2 separate regions of the Homo sapiens genome follow, and region 2 is linked to region 1. The links come from fine-mapping of genetic effects on gene expression. A gene starts in region 1. The other region holds a variant in brackets. All regions are shown on one strand. Distances are from middle to middle. Region 1 holds the start of FGFR2 (fibroblast growth factor receptor 2). Region 2 overlaps FGFR2 (fibroblast growth factor receptor 2).

Region 1 (3,017 bases):
GCTTTTCAGATGAAAATGAGTCGAGCCCGGTGGAAGATTTACAGGGATTTGGGACCAGGGAGACAATGGAGTTTTAAATGTTGATAGCGTTTCACACCAAACACATAATGGGTGCCCTGAGTTTGAAAGCAGGTTTGCCTTTAAGGGTAGGTTTTATTGAATTGGGAGAAAGGAAGGAGGGTCTGGAGAACGGTCTGCAAGGGAGCGGGGTGCGAGGAGAGCGACGGAGGCTGGTGGTCCCCGAGCGGGCCTCCTGCGCCAGGTCCGTGGTCCGCGAGGGTCGGAGCCAGCGCCACGCAGGGCCCTCGGCTTTTTTCCCCAGCGCGGCCCCGTGGCCGAAAAAAATGAGCGCGCAAGTTAGAACTCGCCTGCGCTTTCGACATCTCCCAGCCGCTGCGGCAGAGCAGGCAGGCGAACTAGAAAAAGTCGGTCCAGTTCGCCCCCTAGCCCCAGGCGCACTGCGCTCCCTCCAGCGCCGACGGCGGCTGCGGGCGAGGGGCGCCCAGGCACCGGAGCCGTCGCCTCCCCAGCAGTGCCACCCCTGGCCATCGCCACCCCTACGGGATGTCACCGGCCCCACCCCAGCGGCCCCCTCCCGAAAAAGGGGTCTCCGCAGGGCCTGGATGGTACGGAAGTTCCCAGGACACACGGATGGGGCACCTCGGAGATGACCCCGGGAACCGGCCTGCGGGGCTGTGCCACGGGCAGGCGAACCTTCCGCCCGTCTGCTCTGGGGTCGGAGAAACGCGCCCAGTCAGCGGGAATGCGCCCGCCAGGGTTTGACAGGGAGGGGGGCGTCAACGCCAGAAGCAGATGTCAGCATCTGGATGGGGGTAGCAGAGGCAGAACTTCCAGAACGCCGGCCGTCAGCACGCACCCACCTCCCCCATCACCTATGCAGCCACAGAGGGAGGACACGGAGCGTCCTCCACAATGCTAGTCCTTCCGCGCCCCCCGCCCGGAGGACGGTGCACCCGGCGTCCCGGGCTCCCGTGGCGCCCACGTCCCCGGCTGGCGAAGCTCCCCGAGGCGTCTTGCGCGGCGATTACCTTGAATGGCAACGCTCCTCCGCGACCTGTGTTGTCCCCGCGCCCCGCGTGGGTCGGGATGGAGAAAGCGACGAGCCCGGGGTTGCGGGGAGCAACTCCAAACGCAGAAGAGTGGTCCTTGGGTCTTCGCCGGCGCCAAGCCTCCCGGGCTTCACGCGTACCCCAGGCTGCGGAGGAGCGCGGGCATGACGCCCGCGGGCTGCCCTCGGATTTGGGGAACGAGAGGAAGAAAGGACTCAGGCTTGGCGTTGCCTCCACCAAACTTTGCTCGCGAGTTGCGAAGGCTCAGAGCGCGCAGGCAAGCTGCGGCCTCGGGGCCCCCGGGGCTCGCGGCCGGCCCCCGCCAGCCCGGAGAGCAGTCGCCGCGCCGGGCCAGGTACGCCGCATGCAGCCCCGCGGCGCCCGAGCTTTGTGGCGGCCGCGCGCGCTCCCTCGCCCGCTCCGCACCCGCCGCCCGCCCGCTCGGCTCTCCACCGCGCTCTCCTCCAGCCGCCGCCCGCGCCGCCGCCGCCGCCCCCGCCTCCTCGCGGCGGGTCACGCCCCCACTGAAACCCGAGCCGTTTCCTGGACGGCGGCGCCCTCTCTGCCAATCAGCGCCGCGCGCCCGGGCCGCCCCGAGTCCCGCGCGGCTCCCGACGCCTCCGAGCAGCCGGAGACACCGGCCCGGGAGGCGAGGGCTCGGCCGCGATGCGGCCGTAGGGATGCAGCGACAGCCTCCGAATAAGGCCTGGTCCCGCGCCCCGCGCCACCTCCTCCCTCCTCCCCGGGCGAGCGAGGCTGGCCAACGGCTCGCTGAGCGACTGCGTTACGTTGTTTTATGTCAAGTTAGAAAACAAATGACCGAAGGCTCTAACCCTGCCCTCCCGCTAAAGAGACTTTAAAATGCGCCTGCTTGATACTGCGGGGAGGGTTGCCAGGCAGCTGAAGCTTTTGGAGGAGAGGAAGCCACTTGGAAATGTTCGCAGGACATTGCATGTTTCTGTCCTTCTAAACAATAGAAATGAGAGGAAAAAACTGAATATTAATGGAGGCCCTACTATGGGAGGGTCACACTACATAGGTGATTCTATTTCATCTGCCCAACCACCCTGCAGAGTACTATTCCCAGTTTCTGATAAGGAAACAGGATCAGAGAGGTTAAGTAATTTGCCTAGGACCACACAGCTGGCTACTAGGACAGCCTGACTTTGAATGTGGCTCTCTCAGAAAAAGCCAAAATTGCATCAAAAAAAAAAAGTGTTTAATAATATATGTTTGGATTAATAAAAAGAAATTCAAAGGAGTCTAAAGACAACTCTACCATAAATAGACCTTGAACAAAGTAATTCCTCCCTCTGAATCTTAGATTAAAAATCATAAATGCAAAATCTGATTCTTCAACTGCACACCAAGCTGTAACTGGTTAAAGTTCCTATGTCCATTTACCTTTTCACTAAGCCGTGTCTTCGGAATAATTTATTTTAAATATGCTTTTTCTCCCTCCTTATTCATCCAGCTCCTGAGCAGCCGTGCTTAAGTTCAAGACCATATAGATTAAAACCTTAATTATTTTTCTTTAGAAAAGGTCACTAAACCCAGAAATGCTTTAGAATCCTTTTGAGGCCTGAAGATAGATGAAGCATTGAGAACAAACCTGACTTGGAAAACAGACTTTTCCTGGATTTAGAAACATATTTGCACCTGTGTCACTAACATTGCACCCTTCATAACATTTACAAAAATATTTTTCAAGGTGCTACATGATTAGAAAATCATTTTTATTCACAAATATAGCACAGAAAACGTTTATGCAAGTTATTTAAAAGCCACACAAGTAAGAAATCCATTTAACTGCCTCAGGCAAAAGGCTATAACATTGTATTTTGGAAATTTGATAGCAACAAAATAAAAACTGGTTCTTAAGCAAAATTATCCCTCTATATGCTTGGTGGGAGGGTATGTTTTTGGTCAAGTCCTCTAACCTGGATT
Region 2 (2,759 bases), 78 kb before region 1:
GGAATTATTAGCTGGTGAGAACACTTCATTGGCTGAAAGTTCTTAGCTGGGTCACCTATGGTTCTACTGGAAGAATGTTCTTCTTAAGGACATTCATTCTCCATGAGCAACTAGACATGGGAGGCGTGGTAGGCAAGGAGTTAAGAGCCAGCTGTACAGACTTAGCTGCCCCTGTCCTCAGTCTCCTGAAGAGCAAACCTAGATCTAAAAAAGAGGCAGATGCTATGAAAATGGGGGCTTGCAAATAAGAAATAAGGAGGGAAAGATATTTTCCTTGTTCAACATTTCACTGGTGCAGAAATATGACCTAGAGTTTATTGTCTAAATCACCTCTGAATGGATTTCAAAGGTCAGGGTTTTGTTTTGTTTTGTTTTTGTTAAAAAAAAAATCCAAATTGTTTCTAAAACGTGGCTACTAAAATTGGATCCTAATGTCCTATTAATAGAAAACAACATCAGAGTAACAATCAACACTGGCACAATGCCTTGAGCCTACAAAGCTCTTTCCATCCACTCCATCCCATTTATTCTGCACAACCGCCCTATGGGGGACAGAGTATCACGATCTCTACTTTTATAGAGGCGCAGCTAAGCCTAAATGTCTGCGATCTCAGGGCTGATAAATAGCTGAACTATTCTCTCTCCAAGTTTAGTAGTTCTTCCCCAAGTTTAGTAGTTCTTCCCCTACTCCATAGTTCCCTTCTGAAATTCTACTAGCAAGTGTAATGATCTGTTAATTCCTTAGAACACTCTCTGCTGGCTAGTCAAAAAAGAGAATCATCCTCTCTCAACTCCAACAGGAAATCAAAGAACCTGTGGCCAAACCCATGAAGGAGACCCCAGTTGTGGGTACCTTTAGATTCAGAAAGTCCTCACCTTGAGAACCTTGAGGTAGGGCAGCCCGTCGGGCCCGTATTTACTGCCGTTCTTTTCCACGTGCTTGATCCACTGGATGTGGGGCTGGGCATCACTGTAAACCTTGCAGACAAACTCTACGTCTCCTCCGACCACTGTGGAGGCATTTGCCGGCAGTCCGGCTTGGAGGATGGGCCGGTGAGGCGATCGCTCTGGTGGAGAGAGGGAAGAAAGGAGGAGTGGGGATGGGAGAATGAGAGACCAATAAATAAGCTGTGTTGTCCAGAGGGCTGTCAGTGACCTCATGCCAGAAAAGCCTCAAG[C/T]CTGCTGGCTGACACCTTTGAAATAACACTGTGGCCCCATGAATAACAGAAACGACTTCAAAGGAGACTGCCGGAGCGCGACCCTTGTAAAAAGAACACTTACTTAGAAAATTGAGAAAAGAACTTATTACATCCCAGGTTATTGGCTGTCCACTGCCACCTGATGAATACGGGAAGAAATTCTACTCTGACAATCTAAGTGACAAATGGTAGGGGAGGGAAGCTTCTTCACTTATCCTATTTGAGATAATCTCAAAAACTCACCTCAACCACAAGCTTAACATCACAGGCAAATGACAAGACTAACTTTAAAGACACTCTGAATACCAAAAATGGTTTCAATAGGCACATGTCTCCCAATACATTTTTTTTTCTTTTCTCAGACGGGGTCTCACTTCATTGCCCAGGCTGGAGTGCAGTGGCATGATCACGGCTCACTGCAGCCTCAGCCTCCCAGGCTCAGGTGATTCTCCAACCTCAGCCTCCTGAGTAGCTGGGACTACAGGCAACCGCCACCACGCCCAGCTGACTTTCAAATGTTTTATAGAAAGAGGATTTCATCATGTTGCCTGGGCTGGTCTCAAACTCCTATGCTCAAGCGATCCACCTGCCTTGGCCTCCCAAATTGCTGGGATTACAGACGTGAGCCACCACGCTCGGCTCCAGTACATTTCTAAGATGCTCTGAGAAGACTTCCAACCTTTGTTTTAAAAATTAAACTAAAGCCTAAAGCCCAAAGTTATGAACAGATTTGATTAATAATGGGATTCACCTCTTTATTGTGGAATTCACTCCATTCATTCATTCTTTATTCACCCATTTAGCTCTTTGATGAATATCAGGTGTTACTCTATGCCAGTTACTAAATGCACAAGTAGATGTTTCTTAGCTTATTCCAATATGGCACTGAATGAAACATAAGGAGATGCTGGTTTCCAACTCCTGGCTATGTTTTAGACTGCCCTATAAAAGGGCAGAGATGGTATCCCAAAATTACTTCCTAGCTTCACTTGTCTTGCCTCTCTCTCCTTCGAGAACACGTTCTCAACAAAGAATACACCCTCTCATCTTATGCCTGGAAAGGCTTCTCTCCAGCTAAGAGGCGGTCTCTGCAAAACTTTTGTGGAGACAATCAAGCCAAGGTGTGCTAGCAACCACACATGAGACTCCTCAAGTGTTAAGTAATACCCATGGAAAAATGGGCTAAGGACTTAACTATGCATTTCTCCAAGACACAAATGGCCACTAGGTGTATGAAAAGTTTCTCAATGTCACTAATCATTAGAGAAATGCAAATCAGACGAGATCGGGCGCGTTCCAAATCAAAACCACAAGGAGCTATCACATGACACCTGTCAGGATGGGAAGAAAAAAAAAAAAAGACAAGTGTCGGCAAGGATGTGGAGACACTGGAACCCCTGCGCACTGTTGGTGGGAATATAAAATGATGCAGCCACCATGGAAAACAATATGGAGGTTCCTCAAAAAATTAAAAACAGAACTACCCTAAGATCCTGCAATCCCACTTCTCTATTTATCTAAAAGAACTGCAATCAGGATCTGCACTCCTATATTAATTGC

The links.
Region 2: its variant is fine-mapped to the expression of FGFR2 in blood mononuclear cells (TOPMed, PIP above 0.99).

Annotation. Positions count from the first base shown.
Region 1 is chr10:121,596,913-121,599,929 of GRCh38, forward strand. FGFR2 (fibroblast growth factor receptor 2) reads right to left here and starts at 1,532. Exons shown (of 18, transcript NM_000141.5): 1 at 1,050-1,532. RefSeq lists enhancers at 1-2, 3-738.
Region 2 is chr10:121,519,103-121,521,861 of GRCh38, forward strand. It overlaps FGFR2 (fibroblast growth factor receptor 2), which reads right to left. Exons shown (of 18, transcript NM_000141.5): 7 at 877-1,067. Among named protein-coding and RNA genes, the nearest start is that of FGFR2, 78 kb to the right of the region's middle. The variant C/T (reference allele first, on the strand shown) is at 1,179.